Homo sapiens: one gene and its partners. The protein of the gene in region 1 purifies or fractionates together with the protein of each later gene. This does not show direct contact. Each region holds a gene or a part of one and is shown on either strand. Other genes may lie near its edges.

Evidence for each region.
Region 2: the proteins of HSD3B2 (region 1) and LETM1 purify together in Homo sapiens (affinity purification with mass spectrometry; one large-scale study listed by BioGRID and IntAct). This does not show direct contact.
Region 3: the proteins of HSD3B2 (region 1) and TCEA1 purify together in Homo sapiens (affinity purification with mass spectrometry; one large-scale study listed by BioGRID and IntAct). This does not show direct contact.
Region 4: the proteins of HSD3B2 (region 1) and PC purify together in Homo sapiens (affinity purification with mass spectrometry; 2 studies listed by BioGRID and IntAct, with this or other methods). This does not show direct contact.
Region 5: the proteins of HSD3B2 (region 1) and TMEM38A purify together in Homo sapiens (affinity purification with mass spectrometry; 2 studies listed by BioGRID and IntAct, with this or other methods). This does not show direct contact.
Region 6: the proteins of HSD3B2 (region 1) and WBP11 purify together in Homo sapiens (affinity purification with mass spectrometry; one large-scale study listed by BioGRID and IntAct). This does not show direct contact.
Region 7: the proteins of HSD3B2 (region 1) and WDR36 purify together in Homo sapiens (affinity purification with mass spectrometry; one large-scale study listed by BioGRID and IntAct). This does not show direct contact.

What each region holds. Positions count from the first base shown.
Region 1 is NC_000001.11:119,413,826-119,417,949, reverse strand, and holds the start of HSD3B2 (3 beta-hydroxysteroid dehydrogenase/Delta 5-->4-isomerase type 2), read right to left. Parts: upstream 2,801-4,124; 5' UTR 2,748-2,800; intron 2,620-2,747; 5' UTR 2,531-2,619; coding exon 2,389-2,530; intron 1-2,388. UniProt on the Homo sapiens protein: 3-beta-HSD is a bifunctional enzyme, that catalyzes the oxidative conversion of Delta(5)-ene-3-beta-hydroxy steroid, and the oxidative conversion of ketosteroids.
Region 2 is NC_000004.12:1,846,157-1,849,656, forward strand, and holds part of LETM1 (mitochondrial proton/calcium exchanger protein precursor), read right to left. Parts: intron 3,054-3,500; coding exon 2,993-3,053; intron 1-2,992. UniProt on the Homo sapiens protein: Plays an important role in maintenance of mitochondrial morphology and in mediating either calcium or potassium/proton antiport. Mediates proton-dependent calcium efflux from mitochondrion.
Region 3 is NC_000008.11:53,987,949-53,991,448, reverse strand, and holds part of TCEA1 (transcription elongation factor A protein 1), read left to right. Parts: intron 1-3,189; coding exon 3,190-3,335; intron 3,336-3,500. Other genes in the region: LYPLA1-TCEA1 readthrough, read left to right, coding at 3,190-3,335.
Region 4 is NC_000011.10:66,867,884-66,871,383, reverse strand, and holds part of PC (pyruvate carboxylase, mitochondrial precursor), read left to right. Parts: coding exon 1-69; intron 70-186; coding exon 187-332; intron 333-491; coding exon 492-609; intron 610-930; coding exon 931-1,082; intron 1,083-2,419; coding exon 2,420-2,538; intron 2,539-3,500. UniProt on the Homo sapiens protein: Pyruvate carboxylase catalyzes a 2-step reaction, involving the ATP-dependent carboxylation of the covalently attached biotin in the first step and the transfer of the carboxyl group to pyruvate in the second.
Region 5 is NC_000019.10:16,685,139-16,687,830, forward strand, and holds part of TMEM38A (trimeric intracellular cation channel type A), read left to right. Parts: intron 1-1,149; coding exon 1,150-1,267; intron 1,268-2,692. UniProt on the Homo sapiens protein: Intracellular monovalent cation channel required for maintenance of rapid intracellular calcium release. Acts as a potassium counter-ion channel that functions in synchronization with calcium release from intracellular stores.
Region 6 is NC_000012.12:14,793,479-14,796,978, forward strand, and holds part of WBP11 (WW domain-binding protein 11), read right to left. Parts: coding exon 3,329-3,500; intron 1,627-3,328; coding exon 1,493-1,626; intron 1,259-1,492; coding exon 1,059-1,258; intron 445-1,058; coding exon 253-444; intron 1-252. UniProt on the Homo sapiens protein: Activates pre-mRNA splicing. May inhibit PP1 phosphatase activity.
Region 7 is NC_000005.10:111,095,348-111,098,847, reverse strand, and holds part of WDR36 (WD repeat-containing protein 36), read right to left. Parts: intron 1,770-3,500; coding exon 1,669-1,769; intron 127-1,668; coding exon 9-126; intron 1-8. UniProt on the Homo sapiens protein: Part of the small subunit (SSU) processome, first precursor of the small eukaryotic ribosomal subunit.

The DNA of each region.
Region 1 (4,124 bases):
AGTCCCACTTTATTGGTGAGGAAACTGAGGCTCAGAGAGGTTAAGGGACAGATCTAAAGTCAATTTTCTAGTGAAGGCTCAAACCTGCCCATTCCACCTGCCATTTTTGTACCCTGTACCCCAGGTGCAGGAATAGCTGTTTAGAATCAACTTTTCTGAGAAAGAGTAAGAATAAGCCAGTTTAACTGAAAATGCCCACAAAGGCCAAAGAACAGTGAGAGCGAAATTCAGAATGAAAAATTCAAGGCTGGAGAAATTCCTTCCTGGGATACAGGTGGGACCATTTGCTCTTCTGATGCCTCTGCCTTGTTTTGTCTACTCCCAGCCCCTTCCCACTGTCAGGCAACTCCAAGAAGGCCCTGGAATGGTGGAGGCAGGGAAGAGGCTGCTGGGGAGGAGGTGGGTGTCAGCCCGAGAGTGGAATTTTCTCTGGTTGTATTTCCACCTCTACCTTTTCTACTCCCTTCATCTGCTTCTCCTTTGCTGCCGACTTTAGACAGACTGGCTCAAAGGAATTGCCATTTCATAGCAGAAGTCCAAAGCCGATAGAAAATGACTCTTCCCCGGTGAGTTTCCATGGATCTAGAGAGACCAGAAAAGCGCAATTTTTGATGGAGTCTTAGCTCCCTCCTTCTCCAAGGCACTGTGGACTTGGCAAGTGTTTCATGTAGACTAAATTCAGTTGCTTTTGTGTTGTGTGTTGGGCTGGAGGGAGGCTCAGAGAAGCTGCTAGACAAACTACTACTTAAGAGCACAGAAGCTGCACTAGACTGCCTGGATTCAAATCCAGCTTTGCCGTAATCTAACTTGGGACCTTCGACAAGTTGATTAACCTCTCTGTGTCTGTCTCCTCATCTATAAAAAAGGAGGATAATAGTATTACCCATCTCATAGGGTTGTTATGGGAAGTAAATGAGTCAGCACATGCAAAACCTTTAGCACAGTGCCTGGCACAGAAAGAACACTGAAAGGATTCTCTGTTTTTATCTTCATACAGGCCCTGCCCATCCATTATGCTCCCTGCATTTTCACCATAGCAGAACTCTTCCTCTAGACTGAGCATTGCTTTTTCCTGGTATCAGATGTTAGATTGTAAATATTGCTGAGACATAAGGATTACAAACATTTAATATCAGTCATGTGTTAATATCTGTTCACTATTAGAACAGAGAGTGGAGGAAATTGGACATTTAAAGAGGTCAGAGAAGAGTGAAAGAAGAGGAGAGTGTCAAGGGGAGCTTCTGTGTGAACAGGGCAGGACCTTCTAGGCAGCCAGAACCTGCATGAAGAAGATACATAGTTCCCCCAGTCCCCTGGGTTGGGAGGAAAACATGGAATTGGTTTGGGGCACACAGAGAGGCAAAGGGAGAGACTGAAGACCCACCAAGGATTAGCCCGGGGGTCAAGTGATGAAGCTTCTGGAATGAAGCTCTGGTCTGAGCTCTGCTACACATTAATCAGCTGTTCTTGGCAAGTAACTTTATGTTTCTGGAACTTGATGGGTTCATTGTCCAGTTGGAGGTGACCCCTTTTCTACCTTCCTCACAGGGTTATTTGCACAAAGAGTTACTACAGCAAATTCTGCAGTCAATTTATTTGGAGTATTGAACAACAGATACAAATGGTTTTTTTTTAAAAAGGCTATATATGAGAAATATAAATGAGGCATGTTGGCCTCATACTGCCTTTTACTCTGTCTCTGCTCTGTGCCGTGCACTTGTGCATGCTCTCTTTCTCTCTTTCTCTCTCTCTCACTGATGATCTCTCTCACTTTCACTCTCTCTCTCTTGCTGATGCTCTCCCTCACACTATCTTTCTCATTCATTCTCTGTCTTTCTCATTCTCTGTCTCTGACCTTCTTTCCCCCTCATTTTCTTTCTCTGTCTGACACACACACACAATTACACACACATCCGTACCTTCACTTCCTTTTATTTTGCCCTCACTAAAGATACTAAGGAAGCTATAAAATGAAATGAAGCCTGGGGCAGTCTAGACAGGCAGGACCCACTGGTGAGGTCTCCAGGTAAATGATGTCCTTTGTGAATGTCGCACAGCAATCGCCAAGACAAAAAGCTTCAGAACATAAGAGTTGTAGACAAGAAGGAGAACTCATGTGTGACTCTCTAGAAGAGAAGAAAAGGGGCCTTGAGGCTGACATGGCTGCCTCTCAAGTTCTGCGTCAGGGCCAGAATCCAGTCTCTGGACACCCCATCCAGTATCTTTCACACTATACCATTTTATTCTATTTCCTTTCTGATGACTTTAGATGTGTGACTGGCTTTCATTTGGCTACAACTTTCCTTAACTTGCTAGACAAGGTCAACCTCCCCACACCCATGCAGAGTTTAAGATGGAGCCACAGACCCATGACTCAAGTTTACTTACTAGAAAATTCCTCTCTCAATTCTGGTCTGAAGGCCTTGTCCAAGGCCCTGATCTCCTTCAGTTCCTTCTCTTCCACCAACAGGCGGACGATCCTCTGACCCAGAAGCCCTCCTGCTCCTGTCACAAGGCAGCTCCAGCCCATCGTGGCCAATCCAAAGTAGCAGGAAACACTTGCCAGGAAACAGAAGATGCTGGAGAGCAGATCTGATTCTAGCGTGACCCAGAAGAGGGCTAAAAACAAGAGGTAAAATGGTTATACACTCAGCAGATGCCTTATTTTCCTCCACCCCATTTTTTACAAAAATTCCATGACCCCACAACTGCCAGGAGTAGTTGAAAGAAAAGGAGAAAGCTCTAACCGTAACTTAGATTGTTAAAAGCTGGACAGAGGAGTCCAAGTCCTTACTGCCTCATCCCTGGAGGAAGGACTGGAGCTTTATGCTCTGTGGCTTGTGTCTCAGCCCTTATTACCTTGAACTCCTGCCACATACTCATTGCTCCCTCCTCCTCCAGAATCCCTTTTCTCAGAATAATAGTGACCTTTAGGTTATATCTCTAATTCTTCCCAGGAACAGGAAGAGAAATCCAATCTTAAGGCCACAGTGTGATAAAGAGTCTTGGCTTTAGCCTTAACAGAACACTGGTCAGTTGATACCAGCTGTCTGGGATCTGCAATCTGTGAACTTAAACCAAACTGGGAGAAGTCTCCAAGTGCAATGTAAATGTTGTCCTTGTACAGTAAATCCACCTGGAGGGAGATCTATTTTAGCCCATTATCAACTCTCTGAGAGTGTCATTTGAAACGTCACTGCTGTCTTGCAAAGTTTAGAAATTTTCAATGGTGACAGCTCCAATCACTAAGTTTTATGTGAGGTGACTTTCTTTTCCACCCAATATATCCAAAACCTCAATTGCAATTTTTCCCTGGAGAGCTCTGGGTTCCTAATGGAAGAACCTCATTGAAGGAAAGGTATCTAGTGATAACGAATTAATCATATGGCCTGTAATACAAGTGTGGGGATTTGTAGTTGTATGCCCAATGACTCTAATCATAGATATTTGCACTCATCTTACATTTTTGGCTGCAAAACCATTCTTAGCAAATTGTTGAACTGAAGATGCTATGAATGCTTCTGAAACCTATGCCCCAGTCTGCCCAAACATCACTGCCATAAACTCCCCAAGACACTTTTCTCTACTTAAAAAAATAGAGATGTAGTTTTTTTAAGTAGATGTAATCTGGGCATTACAAGGCCCAGATCTTAAGCGTTCAGTGTACACTTAAGTGTTCATTGTCAATGAACCTTGACAGTTATATATGTCCATGTAAGTACCAACGAAAAGAAGACCACCATTTCCTTCACTCCAGAAAGTTTTATCTGCCTGTTCTTAGTCAATTGCCTGCCCTCCCCCGAGTTTACCTGGTAGGCAATTACTTTCTGATTTTTATTCCCACAGAGTTCCCACTTTATTCCTATATTTTCCTAATTTTTTCTTCTAAGATCTTTGTGATTCTGGATATATATTTAAATATAAAATCATTCTGAACTGAAGTTTTGTTCATGGAGTACAGAAAAATTGACCACTGATTGTCTCTATTGTTTGTTCATTTTTCTATTTCATGATTTTCATTATTTTTATTATTGGCTTAAATGTTTATTAACTTTGGGTTTATTTTACTCTTCTTTTTCAGGGTTCTTATGATAAAAGCATAGATAATTGACTTTACTTCTTTG
Region 2 (3,500 bases), on another chromosome or scaffold:
TCATCCATAATTCTTGATAAGTAGACAAGTCCATCAAAACAGCTGTACAGTCCTCATTGTTTAAATTTTTAAGTAGATGTTCAAAATTGGGAACTTTAAAAAAAGTTACGTGAATAAAGTACAGCTTTTATGTTTTGTTGTTAGCCCAGGCTGGAGTACAGTGGCGCCATCTTGGCTCACTGCAACTGCCACCTCCCGGGTCCCGGTTCAAGCAATTCTCCTGCCTCAGCCTCCTGAGTAGCTGGGATTACAAGAACATACCACCATGCCCAGCTGATTTTTGTATTTTTATTAGAGATGGGGTTTCACCATGTTGGCTAGGCTGGTCTTGAACTCTTGACCTCGTGATCTTCCCGACTCAGCCTCCAAAAGTGTTGGGATTACAGGTGTGAGCCACCGTGCCCGGCCAGCATTTATGTTTTAGTATGAAATTTAAATGCTAAAAAGTTGCTTGACAAATTCAACATCCATTCCTAATAAAAAGAGTAACAGACAGAACAAAGATTACTTAAACCCAAAAGCTAACATCATATGTCACAAACACTAGATCCTGTATTTTCTGCTATTGTGATACCGCATGACTGACTACAGCTGTTCTGACACAGATCTGGCTACTGAGCTAAGAAATGAAACCACCTCAGAAGCAGAAGCCCTGGGAAAGAAGAGGCAGATGATTACTATGTACTAAGATCACAGCCATAAACTAAACCTGGGCTGCTACAAGAGCTGAACAAATAACAGGAAAGGGGCCAGATACAAGAAAATTGTACAACTTAGCAACTTACGGGACAGCAATGATCACTTAGAAAAGATAATGAAAAGAATTAATGAAAATAATAAACATCTGGGAATTATCTAAAATGCAATGCATGTGGCCTATACAAAGAAAACAGGCCGGGTGCAGTGGCTCACACCTGTAATCCCAGCACTTTGGGAGGCCAAAGGCAGGAGGACTGCTTGAGTCCAGGAGTTCAAGAGCAGCCTGGACAACATAGTGAGAACCTGTCTCTACAAAAAATACCAAAAAGAAAAAAATTTAGCAAGGCATGTTGGTAATGCCTGTAGTCCCAGCTACTCAGGAGGCTAAGGTGGGAGAATGGCTTGAGCCTGGGAGATCAAAGCTGCAGTGAGCCATGATTGCACCACTGCACTCTAGCCTGGGCAATGAACAGAATGAGATCCTGTCTCAAAAAAAAAAAAAAAAGTAATATTCCTTCCCAACTGGTTTAATGACACTTCAGATACAATCCCAAAAAGACTGTTTTAGAAGTAAAATGGTTCAGCTCATCTAGAAGGAAGGTCCAGACTGACGAGGTTTGGGGGAACTGGTCCCCAGGGAGGAACAACTGCTGGAGAACTCACTAAAGAAAATAACGGGAGCAGCTAGGCGCAGTGGCTCACACCTGTAATCCCAGCACTTTGGGAGGCCGAGGTAGGTGGATCATCTGAGGTCAGGAGTTTGAGATGAGCCTGGCTAATGTGGTGAAAATTTTGTACTTTTGTACTAAAAATGCAAAAATTAGCTGGGTGTGGTGGCGGCGTCTCTAATCCCAGCTACTAGGGAGGCTGAGGCAGGAGAATCGCTTGAACCCGGGAGGCAGAGGTTGCAGTGAGCCGAGATTGCACCACTGCACTCTAGCCTAGGTGACAAGAACAAAACTCGGTCTCAAAAAAAAAAAAAAAAAAAAAAAATTAGCTGGGTGTGGTGTGCGCGCCTGTAATCCCAGCTACTTGGGAGGCTGAGGCAGATAACTGCTTGAACCCGGGAGGTGGAGATTGCAGTGGGCAGAGATCACGCCACTGCATTCCAGCTTGGTGACAGCGCGAGACTCTGTCTCAAAAAAAATAAAAATAAAAAAAAAAAAGAAAATGCAACCTTAAGGAAAAAGACATAAGAAAACCAATTTCTTTTCTCATCCAAAGTTATAATAAAACGTTATTCGTGGACCTTAAAGTTGCAGTTTCTGCCAGGCATGGTGGCTCACACCTATAATCCCAGCACTTTGGGAGGCTAAGGCAGGCAGATCACGGGAGGTCAGGAGTTCAAGACCAGCCTGGCCAACATGGTGAAACCCCGTCTCTAATAAAAATACAAAAATTAGCCAGGTGCGGCCGGACGCGGTGGCTCATGCCTGTAATCCCAGCACTTTGGGAGGCCATGGCGGGCGGATCACGAGGTCAGGAGATTGAGACCATCCTGGCTAACACGGTGAAACCCCATCTCTACTAAAAATACAAAAAATTAGCCGGGCGTGGTGGCGGGCGCCTGTAGTTCCAGCTACTTGGGAGGCTGAGGCAGGAGGATGGCATGAACCCGGGAGGTGGATCTTGCAGTGAGCTGATATTGCGCCACTGCACTCCAGCCTGGGTGACAGAGCGAGACTCCGTCTCAAAAAAAAAAAAAAAAAAATTAGCCAGGCGCAGTGAGGCATGCCTGCAATCCCAGCTACTCGGGAGGTTGAAGCAGGAGAATCACTTGAACCTGGGAGGCGGAGGTTGCAGTGAGCCAAGCATGTGCCACTGCACTCCAGTCTGGGTGACAGAGCAAGGCTCTGTCTCAAAAAAAAAAAAAAAAAAAAAGAAAAAAAAAAAGTCGCAGTTTCCAAGAACCTACAGACATTAAATGAGACTTGCTGTACATCAAAATACTGACACTGGGCACTTTGAGGGCACAGTTGCCAGTGCCCACTCCAACTGGGAGTCCAACAATTAAATTCCATTTAATTCCTGTTAGGGGACAGGAAGCCTTCTGTCCCCAGCTCTCCAAGTGCAACTGGGCACTGAGGTTAGGAATGTTTCTATACTGTCTATAGATTCACTGAGGCATGTGACAATCATTTTCAAAATGGAAAGATAAAGGTTTAAAAGAAACAAAGAACAGGAAAGTAGGATACACTGTTTCCCTCAAAAATCAAGAGTCACTCGTGACTCTCCACCATTTTCAAACCCTGTTTTCAAACAGACAGGTGCAGAGTGATACTGATTTACTCACAGGCAGTTCCTCAACCCCAGGGTGCTGGCACAGCTGAGATGAGCAGGATCCCCTGGACTACCTGTAACAGGAACAGGGGAAAATAAATGAGTAGTAAATCAGGGATTTATACTGATACCTTTTTTTGTTGTTGGTTTTTGGAGTTTCGCTCTTGCGCCCAGGCTAGAGTGCAATGGCGTGATCTCGGCTCACTGCAACCTCCACCTCCTGGGTTTAATTGATTCTCCTGCCTCAGCCTCCTGAGTAGCTGGAATTACAGGTGCCCACCACCATGCCCAGCTAATTTTTTTTTTTTAGTAGAGACAGGGTTTCATTCACCATGTTGGCCAGGCTGGTCTCAAACTGCCGACCTCAGGTGATCCGCCCGCCTTGGCCTCCCAAAGTGCTGGGATTACAGGCATGAGCCACCGTGCTCAGCCTTTTGTTCATTTTGATTTATTTGACTTTGCCCAGGCTGGAATGCAGTGGTACAGTCACGGCTCCCTGCAGCCTTGAACTCCTGGGCTCA
Region 3 (3,500 bases), on another chromosome or scaffold:
TGCTAGGATTACAGGCCTGAGCCACCGCGCCCAGCCTTGTTTTTATTTTTTTTTTTGAGACGGAGTCTTGCTCTGTTGCCCAGGCTGGAATGCAGTGGCACAATCTTGCCTCACTGCAACCTCTGTCCCCCAGGTTCAAGCGATTCTCCTGTCTCAGCCTCCCGAGTAGCTGGGATTAGAGGTGCACGTCAACACACCCAGCTAATTTTTGTACTTTTAGTAAAGATGGGGTTTCATCATGTTGACCAGGCTGGTCTCGAACTCCTGACCTCAAGTGATCCACCCACCTTGGCCTCTCAAAGTACTGGGATTACTGTCGTGAGCCACTGCGCCTGGCCTCTCGTTGTCTTTTATCAGTTTTACGTGCTTGACGTGTAGGTATAGAGCCTGTCTGCAAAAGAAAATTACTGTATGTGAAGTCTGATAAAGTAACTGATTGGTATCTATCTACACCCCATCCCCGCCCCAACACACACAGAAATACAGGAGGATTGAGAAATGAATTTTGAGGAGTCATGTAAAGAAAGATAGAAGGTTAAATCTAAGTTGCTTGTAGCTAAGCAGGATTTTATATTTTGGGTGCAAGAATTTAAGAAGAAAGTAATGTGTTTAAATGCTTAGAAAGGAAGGATCAGAATGTAGGAAGTGGGACCAGCAGTAGTGAAACTAGTGAGGAAAAGTTTCCCTCAGCCCATATGGGCAATTTCCCTTGGTTCCTGTGGAGCATTTGGCTACAGACACAGAAGCAAAAGCATTTAATCAAAGTGTTTAAGAACTGGGTTTTTGGCTGGGTGTGGTGGCTCACACCTGTAATGTCAGCACTTTTGGGAGGTCAAGGTAGGGGGATCACTTGAGCCCAGGAGTTTGAGACTAGCCTGAGCAACATAGGGAGGCCCTGTCTCTACAAGTAATAAAAAGCATTAGACAGGTGTGATGGCACATGCCTGTGGTCCCAGCTACTTGGGAGGCTGAGGCAGGAGAACCGTCTGAGTTTGGGGGTCATGGCTGCAGTAAGCCATGGTTGTTTCACTGCACTCCAGTCTGGGTGACAGCGTAAGACTGTCTCAAAAGAAAAAAAAAAAAAAAAAGAAAAGAAATGAGTTTTGGGGCCTGGCACGGTGGCTCAAGCACTTTAGGACGCCGAGGCGGAATTATCACTTGAGGTCAGGAGTTTGAGACCAGCCTGGACAACATAGACCCTTTCTCTACCAAAAAAAAAAGGTTTGTTTGTTGGATTATTTTTTTTTTTTGGAGACAGAGTCTTGCTCTTTTACCCAGGATGGAGTGCAGTGGCGTAGTCAAGGCTTTCTGCAGCCTCAACCTTTCAGTCTCAAGCGAGCCCCCTACTTCAGCCCCCAAGTAGCTAGGACCACAGGTGCATACCACCATGTTTGGCAAATTTTTAAAACTCTTTTTGTAGACCCTGGGTCTCACTATTTTGTCCGGGCTGTTCTTGAACTCCTGGGATTACAGGCATGAGCCAGCTTGCCCGGCCAAAAAATATTTTTAAAATTAACTGGGCATGGTGGCATGCACCTGTAGTCCTAGTTACTCAGGAGGCTGAGGCAGGAGGATTGCTTGAGCCCAGGAGTTCAAAGCTGCATGAGCTGTGATGGCACCACTGCACAACTCTTGCTCTCTTCACCACTGTGAAAAGTCTTGCTCAGTTGCTCAGGCTGGAGTCTTAAAAAAAAAAATAATAAATGGGTTTTTAAGCATTAGTTTGCTCATTCATTTATCACTGAGAGGCATTATGCTACATAATGAAAATACAAAGAAAAGTAAATCCTAGTTTTTGCTCTTGAGAAACTCAGTCTGATAGAGAAGAAAATGTATGAAAAGTTATCATATACAAACCTGTGTGAATCAATATTTTGGGAATACAGGGGGAAATCAGTGAAGGCTTCAAAAAGGAACTGACTAAATTTAAAAGGTACTAATGTCCGTCTGACCCACAGGCACCTGTTTGTGAAGTTTAACAGTGGTTATGTTTTGGAGAGAAGGCAAGGGAGTATGTTCTTGTAGCATTGCAGCAAACCACATCTATGGATGGTGGATGATTTAATCAGTCTTTGAAAAGGGTTATGGCAGCTGTTTTCAATGTGATAAAGCTTAATTGTAATCATGAAGATTATTTTGGAAAGAACCCATTTTAGTGATAATCCAACGTAAGAAGCTACTCAGAAGCAATTGAAAGGATTAGGTTGACTGGAAAATTATAAAACTGCCTAAATGTTCATATCGAGGTGATGTTTCTGGGGAGAAACACACCATTTTGTAGCCTCATGACTCATCAGTACACATGGTATTTGTCTCACTGGGGAACTCACTGTCTAAGTGGAACAAGGTTTTCCTTTTTCTTTTTGTTCTTTTTTTTTTTTGAGGTGGAGTCTCGCTGTGTCACCCAGGCTGGAGTGCAGTGGTGCAGTCTTGGCTCACTGAAACCTCTGCCTCTGGGTTCAAGCGATTTTCCTGCCTCAGCCTCCCAAGTAGCTGGGATTACAGGCGTGTGCCACCACGCCCAGCTAATTTTTGTATTTTTAATAGAGACGGGGTTTCACCATTTTGCCCAGGCTGGATTTGAACTCTACTGGCCTCAAGTGATCTGCCTCTCTTGGCCTCCCAAAGTGCTGGGATTACAGCTGTGAGCCACCATGCCCAGTGAAACAGAGTTTTTCAAGCATTCTCTCTCTCTATCTCTAGTTTTGGTTGAAAGCTGTCATTCTCTGGTGTGAACCTGGGAGGTGGAGCTTGCAGTGAGCCGAGATTGCACCATTGCCCTCCAGCCTGGGTGACAGAGCAAGACTCCGTCTCAAAAAAGAAAGCTGTCATTCTCTGGTCCCATCCCTTCATCCCTCTCCTTATACCAAGATCATTGCTTTTCATTTATTGTACTGAGCTATAATGGGTATTTTCTCTATTAAAAATATTGCTTAATATTTAAAATGAGAATCAAAGATAAAATGTTTAGTTCAAAAAAAAGGCATACTTGTCACTTTACTAAATTGTAAAATTTTTAACTTCTTTTTAATCTGTATGCAGGCAATTTTTTTTCCATCACATAAAGGTCACTGAGATACTGTGTCATTTATTTAGACCCCAAATTTTGTTTTTACAGCATGATAGTAGTATTGTTACTTTGAAAGGATTGTTCTTGATTTCTTTTTGGGGTGTTTGTGCGTATTTCAGTACTTCCAGCGGCAATGTAAGCAACAGAAAGGATGAGACAAATGCTCGAGATACTTATGTTTCATCCTTTCCTCGGGCACCAAGCACTTCTGATTCTGTGCGGTTGAAGTGTAGGGAGATGCTTGCTGCAGCTCTTCGAACAGGGGGTAAGTCCAGTGCATGTTATTTCTCAGTCCTTTGGTCACCACCCACAACCACTGCCATCTCCAACTCCATATTGCTGTTTGATGAGTGTTACCCTGTGGATAGCCCACCCACTGCTGCTTAGCTTGGGGAGAAGTTGTTGCTGATACGGGTCTGTTAAGGGGGAG
Region 4 (3,500 bases), on another chromosome or scaffold:
GGCCAAGCCCAGAAGTGGTCCGCAAGATGGGAGACAAGGTGGAGGCCCGGGCCATCGCCATTGCTGCGGGTGAATATAACGGGCAAGCAAGGGGTGGCCCCGCAGCTCCTGGAGAGGGTCCAGCAGGGAGGGGTGGCAGGGATTCCCGCCTGTTACAGAGACTCCCCCACACCTTTCTCCCAACAGGTGTTCCCGTTGTCCCTGGCACAGATGCCCCCATCACGTCCCTGCATGAGGCCCACGAGTTCTCCAACACCTACGGCTTCCCCATCATCTTCAAGGCGGCCTATGGGGGTGGAGGGCGTGGCATGAGGGTGGTGCACAGCTACGAGGTGAGTGAAGATGCCCAGGGCTGGGAGCAGGGCAGGGCAGCCTGCCGTGGGGGCAGGGGCGGACCACTCAAGGGATCTGGAAAGTGGGTGGGGTTCATGGCAGGGGAGAGGTAGCGCTGTGGGGTCTGAGGTCTGGCTGGCCCCTGCCCGCCCTCGCAGGAGCTGGAGGAGAATTACACCCGGGCCTACTCAGAGGCTCTGGCCGCCTTTGGGAATGGGGCGCTGTTTGTGGAGAAGTTCATCGAGAAGCCACGGCACATCGAGGTGCAGATCTTGGGTGAGTGGTCCTGACGCCCCGCCTGGGGCAGCTGGAGGCGGGAGCTGAGAGGCCCAGTCCTGGTGCCGTCACAGTGGCTGGCCTTGGGGACAGCCCTGGGGCCTGTCGGGCGCTTTTCCAGAGGACTCTGGAAAGTGGGCTCTAGGGGCCGAGCTGGCAGTTGGTCCTCACAGCCTTGGTGATGCTGGTGTCTCTCCTGGCAGCCTCTGTACCGCTGGCAGCCGGCACTGACTGGCGACAGTGGTTATGTGGGGGTGATGGGGCATTTAGGAGGCGTGTAGATTCCAGTAAAAGCTAAGCCCAGTTTACCTCCCTCCCCAGGGGACCAGTATGGGAACATCCTGCACCTGTACGAGCGAGACTGCTCCATCCAGCGGCGGCACCAGAAGGTGGTCGAGATTGCCCCCGCCGCCCACCTGGACCCGCAGCTTCGGACTCGGCTCACCAGCGACTCTGTGAAACTCGCTAAACAGGTGAAGGGTGGGCTTCCCGTGTTGGGACAGGAGCCTGTGCTCACAGGCCGGCAGGCCTCACAGTGGGGCGCTGGTTGGGGAAGGGGACCCTGAGTCCCCTTCTGGGGACTGGGGATGGGGAGAAGAGGGTGAAGGACTCTCCTGGGGGCCAGAAGTGGGTTTGTGGCATCCTTCCCATGTGCAGTTGAGGCACCTGGCCCAGAGGCCAAGCTTAGAGTCCAGGATGGCTGAGAAGAGGGAGGGAAGGAGCCCCAGCCGCCTCCTCAGCCCTGCTGCTACACAGACCTGGCTTCTCTGTGGCATCAGCTCATCCCTGTCATCAGGAGAATGAGATTCCGTGGATTCTGTCAAGATTGAGGACCATTATGAAGGCAGTCCTCCCTCATGTGCTTCTGTCTCCTACATCATGTTTATTATGATCTGTTTCCTTGCTCTGCACCCTCTGCCCATCTCTGCTTTTCTGGGACCTCTGGTCGGGGGGTCCTGGGCTGTGGAGGAGGCTGAGGTGGCAAGCTATCTCCCCACAGTGACCTGCCCCAGGACTGGCCTGGAGAGCACCTGCTGTGGCCAGGTGTGCAGCGGGGTCCTGCCCCCTCTTCTTCCCTGGCCTATAGGCAGCAGAGGATGCGTCACCTCCCCATGCCGAAGGCCGGGGTGTGCACTCTGCAGCAAGGCCTCAGCCACAGCTAATGCGAGGCATCGACCAGGGTCGCGTTTAAGTCAGGTCTTATTTACTGGCTTATACTATTTCACATTCCAGAACAGGTTTAAGGGAGGTGATTCAGTCTGGTTTATCGTTTTGGTGAGACCAAAAGTGAAACTGGAATTAGGGCTGAAATTTGAGTTAGAGTCATTATCTGTTGGTACCTCTCAAATGAATTTCTTTGGGTGGTGGTGGCCAGAGGTGACTGCGCAGTAGACTAGAAGGGGACTTTCTGAAAACACCTCCAAGCAGAAGCAGCGGCTGGGAGAGGCCTGGGTCTCCGTGTCTGGGTGGATGACACAGCCTTGGCGGGCAAGCCCAGGAGGCAGCAGGGCAAGGTGCCGAGCCTGGGATGGGTGGGGGCTTCTGCCCATGTCTCGTCCCAGATAAGCTGGGTGCAGCCATCTGTGGCTCCGGGAACCCTGGAGCCTAGTGGACTACTTGGGGGACGTGTCCAGGCAGGAGCATGACCTGGGCCCTGGGGTCTGTCTGCCATCTGTGGGGGCAGGGTTTGCCACAGGCCATTCTTTTACGGAACCAACCCAATGGGTGGGACGGAATCCCTGTCCTGAGTCCAGTGAGTTTGCCCAGGCCCTGCCTGTGCCCTCCCCTGCTCACGTGGCCGCCCCCACAGGTGGGCTACGAGAACGCAGGCACCGTGGAGTTCCTGGTGGACAGGCACGGCAAGCACTACTTCATCGAGGTCAACTCCCGCCTGCAGGTGGAGCACACGGTCACAGAGGAGATCACCGAGTGAGTGTGGGCGGGCAGGCGGGGCGGGAGGCGCGGCTTCTAGGATTTGCATAAAGTACAGGCGAAGTGGCTCCTGGGGCCAGCCAGGGGGCTTGCTCACTCCCCACATTGGTGGAGAGCAATGGGGATCCAGGTACTTAGTGTTTTAAAAGTCATTATTCTAAAAGCATTACGTGGTTATTATAAAAATCAGCACAAAGGAGCAAATAAAAATGACTGACAGCCCTCCTCTCTGTCAGGACGCTGCCGATTGCTCAGGCCCAGGTGCTCCCATCTGTCAGAGGAGTAAAGCAAGGCTCAGAGACATTTGGAGAGTTGCTCGGGGTCACACAGCTGGCGCTGGAACCCAGGCATCTCCGGCTGTCTTTGGTTTGCTCCTTTCCCGGTTTACCTGTTTTACTAGAGACATAGTTTGATGCAATAGAGATGTTTTATATAGAATTTTTATTCTACTTTTCAAATTATTTAATATTTGTTGAAGGCATTTCCCCAGGCCATAATTCTGTCTGAATACTTTTAGTGGCTGCGTACTATTCCGTCTTGTGTGTATTTCTTAACTTACATAGTCCTCGATTGTTAGGCAATTAGTTTGTGTGTCTGGCTTTGGTGGTTATTAAGCGTGTCACTTATCATCTGTGTGCCTGAATGTTTGGCTTCAGCTCTGAAGAGTTCTGAGGGTAAACCCTTCAACAGGATTATCTGATTGAAGGATAAGTAGCATCCCTCGGAACAGCCCTCTAGAGAGGTGGCACTAGCGTGCTCCCTGCAGGCACTGAGGATGACATTTTCAAAATCCGCCTGGTTTCTAAATGACAGTCATGATGGCCCTCACCCTTCAAGGTCTCTACTATGAGCCATGTAATTTCTTGACGCTGCTTTGGGCCAGCCCATCTCACTGTGGAGCATCCCTGACCCCAGTTCTGCCCCCAGCCCCAACCCCACCTGAGACTGAGGATGCTGTC
Region 5 (2,692 bases), on another chromosome or scaffold:
CACTTTGGGAGGCTGAGGCGGGTGGATTATTTGAGGTCAGGAGTTCAAAACCAGCCCGGCCGACATGGCGAAACCCCATCTCTAGTAAAAATACAAAAATCAGCTGGCGTGGTGGCGGGCATCTGTAATCCCAGCTACTCGGGAGGCTGAGGCAGGAAAATCACTTGAACCCAGGAGGTGGAGGTTGCAGGGAGCTGAGATCATGCCACTGCATTCCAGCCTGGGTGACAGAATGAGACTCTGACTCATACACAAACAAGAAATCAGCAGGGGCAAAATGTGCATGAGGCAGAGTACAGGAAAGAAAAGGTGAAAATATCCAGTTTTCCTCTCCCAGTGGAATCATGTGGACAGGGCTTCATTCTCCCAGCAGCAATGTGTGACAACATGCATGGTGTACTGCCAACCAGGGAAGCTCTTCTGAGCCTGGGTATCCAGGATTTTTATTGTGGCTCAGAACTAGCTAACCACCTGTGTGGCTGACCTCAGTCTTCAGCCCCTCTAGAGGTCCACCTGATGCTGCATGGCCCAAGACCCCCACCATAAATTACGTTGTTACTACCTGGTGTGGCCCAAGGCCGTCCTCAGGCAAACAAAGACAGTCTTATCAAGGCAGGACACTCCAAGGGCTTAGAGGGCATATTCCAGGAGCTGGACAAAGGCCAGATCTTTCCTTGGACCAGGTTAACCCATCATGCATAGGATGACACCATCTCAACCTGCCACCTTACAATCAGGAGAAGCTGTGGCTGGGCGCAGTGGCTCATGCCTATAATCCCAGCACTTTGGGAGGCCGAGCAGATCACTTGAGGCCAGGAGTTCGAGACCAACCTGGCCAACATGGTGAAACACTGTCTCTCCTAAAAATACAAAAATTAGCCAGGCATGGTGGCATATGCCTGTAATCCCAGCTACTTGGGAGGCTGAGGTGGGAGAAACACTTGAAACAAGGAGGTGGAGGTTGCAGTGAGCCGAGGTTGTGCCACTGCACTCCAGCCTGGGCAACAGAGTGAGATTCCATCTCAAAAGGAAAAGAAAAGAGAGAAGCTGGGATGGGAGCTGGTGCCAGGGCAGGGGGGTGTCTGGGCCAGAGTTATGAAGACTTGAGCCATGCAGGCACCTCCCGGTAATGACAGCTGCTCCCTCCAGCCCCACCAAGGCCAGCCTGTATGGAGCCATCCTCTTCACCCTCCAGCAGACCCGCTGGCTCCCAGTGTCCAAAGCCAGCCTCATCTTCATCTTCACCTTGTTCATGGTGTCCTGTAAGGTAAGCCTTTCTCTTCTTGCAGCATTCTTGCCTTGACCAATGCCACCCTGCCACCTCCAGGTTGGGAGTGGGGAAATTGGACACTCCCAGCCTTATGTGGCTGGGACAGGCAGCCCAGAGAGGGGAGATGCTTGCCAGTAGGTCACTGGGAAGAGAGTTTAAAAGGCAGTGTCCAGCAGCCAGGACACAGATGAGAGGAACAGGCCTTCTGTGTAAAGGACCCAGCCTGAGCCAGGGTCAAGGTGGGCCCACTCTCTTGGGTACAGAGACCAGAGGGACAAGAAGCTGAAATGGCAGCATCAGGTACCCAGGAACTCAGTTGGACCAGGAATACTTCTAGTCTGACAGTCATGCCTTGAGTTGACATCACCCCACCCAGGAGGGGTCTTCAGGGGCTGGGCTCTCTCCCTCTGCATGAAGATCTTAGCTCAGGGCTGTGTCTTCCCTGGGTGAGGACTCCAGGGCTGTCAAAAGGGAGTGAGCATGTCTTCCTGCATTAGGCGAGAAGGGAGAGGCAAGCAGATGGCTGGGATCCTGTCCTGCTATGTTTGTAGCTCTACCCCAGGCCAAATGTCTTAGTCCATTCAGGCTGCTGTATAACAGAATGCAGTACCATAGACTGGGTGGCTTAGAAACAACAGAAATTTATTCCTGGGCAGGCACGGGGGCTCATGCCAACACTTCAGGGGGCCAAGGCAGGCAGATCACTTGAGGCCAGGAGTTCAAGACCAGCCTGGGCAACATGGCGAAACCCCATCTCTCCTAAAAATACAAAAATTAGCCAGGCGTGGGGTCACATGCCTGTAATCCCAGCTACTCGGGAGGCTGAGGCAGGAGAATCGCTTGAACCCGGGAGGTGGAGGTTGCAGTGAGCTAAGATCGCACCACCGCACTCCAGCCTGGGCAACAAATTGAGACTCTGTCTCAAAAACAAACAAACAGGCAAACAAAATACAAATACAAAAATTAACCAGGCGTGGTGGCGCATGCCTGTAATCCCAGCTACTTGGATGGCTGAGGCATGAGAATTGCTTGAACCCAGGAGGTGGAGGCTGCAGTGACCTGAGATCATGCCATTGCACTCCAGTTTGGGCAACAGAGTGAGACCCTGTCTCCAAAAAAAGGAAAAGGAAGAAATGTATTTCTTACAGTTCTGGAGGCTGGGAAGTCCAAGATCAGGGTACTAGCCTGGTCGGGTTCTGGTGAGGGCCCTCTTTACTGGTTGCAGATAGGCAGCATCTCACTGTGTCCTCGCATGGTGGAAGGGACTGGTTAGCTCTCCTGGGCCTCTTTATAAGGGCACTAATGTCTTTCCTGAGGGCTCCACCCTTATGATCTAATTACCCCTCCAAAGGCCTTACCTCCTAATACCATCACCTTTGTGATAGGTTTCAACATATGAATTTGGGAGGACACAGACCTTCA
Region 6 (3,500 bases), on another chromosome or scaffold:
ACCTTTTACCCCAAAGTGAACTTTATTACATAGACATTTTTATTACATACAGTTTAATGCTTTTCCTCATAAACATCCACTGAGTACTTACTGTGTCAAAAACTTTCAAAATTTTAATATATAAGATGAACACAGCTATGATCCCGACTTCCAAAGATTTCAGAGTACTCTCACAGATTCATTAATAAATTAGGACCTTCAGCTTGTTTTCTCTTTATTGATCAATACCATGAATCCTTCATCTGCACATACCTGACTTCTTTTCTTCATTGTTGTCTCTCTCACCATTATCACGGTGCACAAATTCATCCCCGTCACTTTCTCCATCTGATTTGTCGGTGTCACTGTCATCAGTACTGTCATCATGCTTATCTTGATCCATGTCCTCAGGATAGCCATCATCTTCACTGGTGCTAGAAACATCATCATCATGACCTCGCTGGGCTGAAAAGTGGGAAGGGAACATGGAGAAGTAGTATGATTGGACCCTCCACTACATGGTACCCAGAAATACAGAAAATTATGCTATTCAACTCAGACTGTAACAACTTAATTCTTACCAAAAAAAAAAAAAAAAAATTCTTGTATATATAGCTACTCATACAGTCTAACAAAATTTTCCTCTGCCAATAATTTTAAACACTTCTTTTTGGTAATTTAAGATTTTTTTAAAAAGAGTTCTAATTTGAAAACCCATTTCCTCCTTTAGCAACAATCATGTTTGTATACACATACACAGTCAGTGAATGTATACAATGACGCTCTAGTCTGATGACAATAAAGCTAAAAGGGAACCAGATATACAAGTCTTAAAGGATTAGCAGCAAGAGTGACATCTCCAGGAAAAGCCTAATTTAAAACACGATAAACATTTCTATACTTATGTATGATGCTTTTACTTGAGAAGATCCTATGATTTATCCAACTGTATGTATATTAGTTATGTACATGATACCCTCTCATTTACTTTCTAAGTTCTGAGGGTGGTGAACAATATGTTAAACAGGGCCAACATAAAAAATGATAGTTATAAAAGCAAAAGAACAGTCACTTCTCACCAAGTTCAGGACTATATAACATGTCTTCATCTCGCCTACGAGGGGGAAGATCTAGGGCAAAACCCACTTTACGGCCATACATCTGCACGACTTGAGGAGGAGGTGGACCAGGGGGAGGGCCAGGAGGTTTTCTGCCAGGGGGCAAACGTGGAACACCATGTCCAAGAAGAGGAAGGATAGAAACTGCCCGAGTTGGAGGTCTGTTAAAAAAAAAAACAAAAACAAAAAAACCCCCACAGTAATCACTTAACAGTAATGAGATATTTATTTTCTCTTCTAAACAATTTTCAAGGGATTTCTTATTTTACATTTAATCAAATGTCACACTGTTTACATCCATATTGTCTTTTATTTCCCTCTGCATTAATTTTGGCACTGGACAGTCAACTTGTGCCTTTACTAAATGCTCTCTGATTGTGACACTGCTTCCTTACCCATAGGCTGAGGTTTTCTTTAGGATAGAGGGTGGCTGGGCACCAGGAAGTGGAATGTCCTGGATCAAAATGTTGGAAGGAGCATGTGGCATATCTGGCAAAGGAATACTCTCCACTTCCACATGCTGAGCATTCTGAAACAGAGAACCATTCAGTAGTATGATAAAAAAGTCATCTACTAACTAAACACTAAAAATGACAAGTCAGCTGTTTCGTAACTTGGACATGCTTTCCAACTAACATAAATATCACCAAAAACCCCCAGAAAAATAACCTTACGTCAATACTTCCACATTGTCAAAGAACTGAAAGAAATCTTTACTTCTAAAAACGTCAGAACCCAGCTGTTTTTTTTCTCCTCTTATCAGGTAATTCTTTTTGGATGATTCGAAACAGCTGTTGTCTAGAGAAAGCCAACTGTTACAAGTATCTAGCACCAGAACTACCCTATTTAACATGTGATAGAAAAATACATGTCAGGCTGGGCGTGGTAGCTCACACCTGTAATCCGAGCATTTTGGGAGGCTGACGCAGGTCGATCACAAGCTCAGGAGTTTGAGACCAGCCTGGCCAATATGGTGAAACTCCATCTCTAATAAAACTACAAAAATTAGCCAGTTGTGGTGGCGTGTGCCTGTAGTCCCAGCTACTCAGGAGGCTGAGGGAGGAGAATTGCTTGAACCTGGGAGGCAGAGGTTGCAGTGAGCCAAGATGGTGCCACTGCACTCCAGCTTGGGCAACAGAGTGAGACTCGGTCTCAAAAACAAAAAATAAACAAAAAAAAGAAAAATAATATATGTCAACTAACAAATAGTATATATCCAGTGGTGGAGGTTGGGCTCATTAGCTTGCCTATGTTGAATTTCTGTTGTGTATTAGCTTAGTTTGACTAAGCAAGGTAACCTGTGCCTTCATCTGTAAAATGGGAGACATATTACCTCCTTTACAGAAATTATAGCATTTGATTTTTTCCCATCTTTATTTTGAGGTAAAATTTACGAAATTTACAAATTCAGTAAGTTTTGACAAATGCATATACCTCATACTCCTTCCCAATCCATCTCTAATATCATCCCCCAAGGCAACCACGGCTACATTTTTTTTTCCTGCACAGATTATCTGTGACTATTCTAGAATTTCATAAAAATGAAATCATAACAATGAGATAAACTTAGCATGTTTTTGAGATTTACTCACAATTTTTCTTTTTTTATTCCATGCTGTTTTGAGTATTAGATTATTCCTTTTATTGCTGAATAGTATTCTATTGTATAAATATGCTACAGTTTAATTATCCATTATCCTATTAGTGAACACTTAGGCTGATCCAAGTTTTTGAATTAATTTCTTCTGTTTAAATAAAGAGGATTAGATTTGCAGGTTCACACAGTAGGTATATGTTTAGTTTTAGAAGAAACTGCTATAAGGAAGAGGTTCAACATGACATTCTCCCATTAACTTTTTAAATCTAAGTATAGGCTGAGCATCCCTAATCTGAATATCTAAAATGCTCCAAAATCCTAAACTTTTTGACTCCCATATGATGCCATGGTGGAAAAATCCACACCTGACCTAATGTGATGGGTCGTAGTTTTGTTTCATGCACAAAATTTATAAAATTATCTTCAGGCTATGTGTATATGAAACATAAATTTCATGCTTAGACTAGGGTTCCATCCCCAAAATATATGCAAATATACACAAAAACAAAACAAAATATAAAAAAAACCCAACAACCCTAAATCCAAAACACTTCTGGTCCCAAGCACTTTGCATAAGGGATACTCAATCTGTATAATATTTTAGTTTATCTCTCAAAAAAAAAACCTTGATTACCTTGACAGCATCAAAATATTGGCTAAGTTGAGCCCTCTTCTGTTCATATTCTACTTCTAGCTTTCTCAATTCTTTGTAAATATCTGGATTCTCTTTTTCATAGAGTCGTAGAATACGTTCAAAGGTTTCACGCAGCTTTTTACGCTTGTCTTTCAGTACTTTCTCATTTAAT
Region 7 (3,500 bases), on another chromosome or scaffold:
ACTCTTACCTTCTGAATATATGTGCCAAATAATAAGAATGCCATCAGTATCAACAGAGATAATGTGGTCTCCAAAGGGTTGCAAGAAATGGATTTCTGCCTTATGACCCTTAAAGGTATGTACTATCTAAAACATCGAAGTTTAAAAGAATTTCATATTATTACTCAGTCATCATGTCATATTATTCATATTATCCCAAAAACATGCTAATCCTGAGATGCTTCTGTTAAGAAATGTACCCCAACTTTTGATTATTCAAGGTTAGGATGAACACATAAATATTAAGGGACCAGGCATGTTCATCTGCTCCCTCAGCCAGTTCAACAATAAGGAAGTAAACTGTCCATTAAGAACAAAGAAATGAGACCTCTGAGGCTCTGCCTTCCATCTTGGGTTAGAGAGGAGGCATGCACACACACCTAGTTCCCTCACCCAATTCAATCAGTGCAACTACATATATCCTAGCGAGATGGTATATTCCAGAAGGCTGATCTCTAAAGACTCCATCACCAACTGGCTTTCAGATGAGATGGGAAAGGGGGATATAGGGTCTTCTTCCCCATACCCTTCTGCTTTGACAGAGATCCTTACAGTAGCTGATCCCTCCATAAGTATAGCCCCTTCTCCATGGTTTCAGTTCTCACTAGATTCCAGTAACACTGTTTCCTCTCCTTGGCCCTTTGGCCTTAGGGGTGGTAACAACTTCCTACAGTTGACAGTGTCTGACGCCTCCCCACCCCTATTTTGTTCCCCTAACCCTGACCACACCTGTGCATAAAGGTCCTTTATTAAAGTCTCCACATCTGAACCACATATAGGTTATACATATAGGATAAAGTCTCCTCATGTAAATCACATATATCTCCCTGGGAAAACTATAAACAACAATACAAAAATGAACATTTTTTCCAATTCTAAAAATCTGAACACCTTCCATTAAAGAACTCTACAGATAAGTTACCTTCCTCTGCCACAGGAAGTGATGATGAAAGACTGTGGGAACCACCTCACTCCAAGTCCCTGACAAGTACAGTGATACTATCATTTGGCTATCTTTGTACCCCCATTCCTACATTTCCTTTCATTCTAGACCATTAAGGCCAGGTCACTTCTCAAGCTAGTTGTTCCAGGACAAATTCAGAAACCAACTGGTAGATTTAGACCAGAAAAGATCTTTCCTTAGCAGTGGAGAAAACATAGAATCTAGCTTTCTCTAAACAGCGAACAGGCATCTGATTTTTAGAAAAAGAGTTATAAGCTAAGTTATACATAATAAATAACCAATCCACATAAAGTGGTGGTGCAAATATGAATTTTCTAGGAAAGTATTTTAAAACTACACTTAATAATACACATTATGTCCTATCTCAACAAATATACAAAATAGAAAACTCCTGAGATGGGAACTAACGGCATAAAAAATTTTGAAGAAGGTCTCCAAGTAATTTTGATATTCATCTCTGGCAAAGAAACTGAAGTAAAGCACCAGTTTTAAGTAAGCCTTTTCTGAAAATTTATCTTCCTCCAGAAAACTGAATATACATTAGAAAAAAAAGAATACTGTATAGTTCCAGAGTGTGCTGGGTAAAGAATGACAAAATTAAAGTTCCCTCCACTATCATGACAAACAAATACTGACTGACAAACAAGTAGTTTAGCGATACCAACCTCTTTATTACGGGCAAATGCAGAGAAAACATTTCCATAAGCAGCAAAGACTAATCTGCCATCAGCTGCCATACAGCAGATATCCTGTGGAACAGAATTACCTAGCAGAAAATACAAAATGAAAGAAACAGGGATTTTTAAGATGTTAAAGAGAAACCTCAAGTATACATATAACATTTTTCATGGCTATAATTTAAAAAAATATATAAATAAAGATCAAAGTTGAGAATCAGTGTATAAAATTTTAACTAAAATATTTTAGATATCTAATAGTAACTATCAAACTAAGGATAGGAAATCACCTTGTCCTTCCCTAAGAGAATGTCTAGGATTTGCAGAAATAAAAACATAATCCTAGAGAAATGAAAACAAGCTTTTTGAGGTTATTTGGAAAAAACTGTCATTTGAAACACAAAGCTCTGACAGATAGTCATCCAGTCTTCACGTGAACATCTTTTTTTTTTTCTTTTTTTTGAGAGACGGAGTCTTGCTGTGTCACTCAGGCTGGAGTGCAGTGATGCAATCTTGGCACACTGCAACATCCGCCTCCCAGGTTTAACTGATTCTCCTGCCTCAGCCTCCCAAGTAGCTGGGATTATAGGAGTGCACCACCACACCCGGCTAATTTTTGTATTTTTAGAAGAGACAGGGTTTTGCCATGTTAGACAGGCTGGTCTTGAACTCCTGACCTCAGGTGATCTGCCCACCTCGGCCTTCCAAAGTGCTGGGATTACAGGCGTGAGCCACATGCCTAACCCATGTGAGTATCTTCTGGAACATCAAGTTCACTAATAACTCCAGAAAAATTTTAAAAGTAACTCAAAATCTAAATCTCTAACTCTACCCTTTGGACCAACCCAAAAATATTACATATGGTATTCTATATGCCTATTCCTAAAACATTTAAAGACAATATTGTTTCTACAGTCTTCTCCAAGGGAAATATGCCTATCAATCTTTAGCATTTCTCACGTGACATATGATTCTTCTCTCAGTATCCTGGTCACACTGACCTTTTCATTTCCTCTTTTGGGGCAGGAGGGTTAGTAGACACAGGATTGTTGTACTTTTCATGCTGCAAATTCCATATTAGTATTTGTTTGCATAACCCTGTTTTATAAGTTTATCATTCACTTTTGTATTCAACTTAAGTTCCAATGCCTTTCTTCTGCCTTCTAATCTATTATTAAAATATAAGTTTAATACACATACACATTACAGTCCTTGTAGGTCTTCTGTTTCTCTCACAAGAACCATATTTGATGGTAAAACAAGTACCTCTCTGCCCTGAGAAATGTTTTATTCTATTAGATAGTTTAAAAAAAAACCCTTCCATTGGAAAGAAATACCAAAATGTGAGAAAAGGGAAAACTTCTCCTTACAGTAGAAGGAATGATGGCAAAAGAAAATCACTATAGGCTGACTATGCTTTATCTGAAATGTTTGAGACCAGAAGTGTTTCAGATTCCGGATTTTTTTGGATTTTGGACTATATGTATAACCAGGTGAATGTTCCTAATCTGAAAATCTGAAATCGGAAATGTTCCAATGAATATTTCCCTGTTAACGTCATGTTGGCTCTCAAAAAGTTTCAGACTTAGGAGCATTTTGGGTTTCAAATTTTTGGATTAAGGATAATCAACATGCATTTGGCAACCATCATACTAATAACTGATTCAGGCAAGTATCATCATAAAATATAAAAGCAGCAGGTAATAACTTTGAAGAGTACTAAGATATTTACATAGTCCCAGTGCATACTACCAAAAGATACTTATTCGTTACAAATGACAAAACACTAACTTAAAAATAGAGCCTCCTAACCAATCACT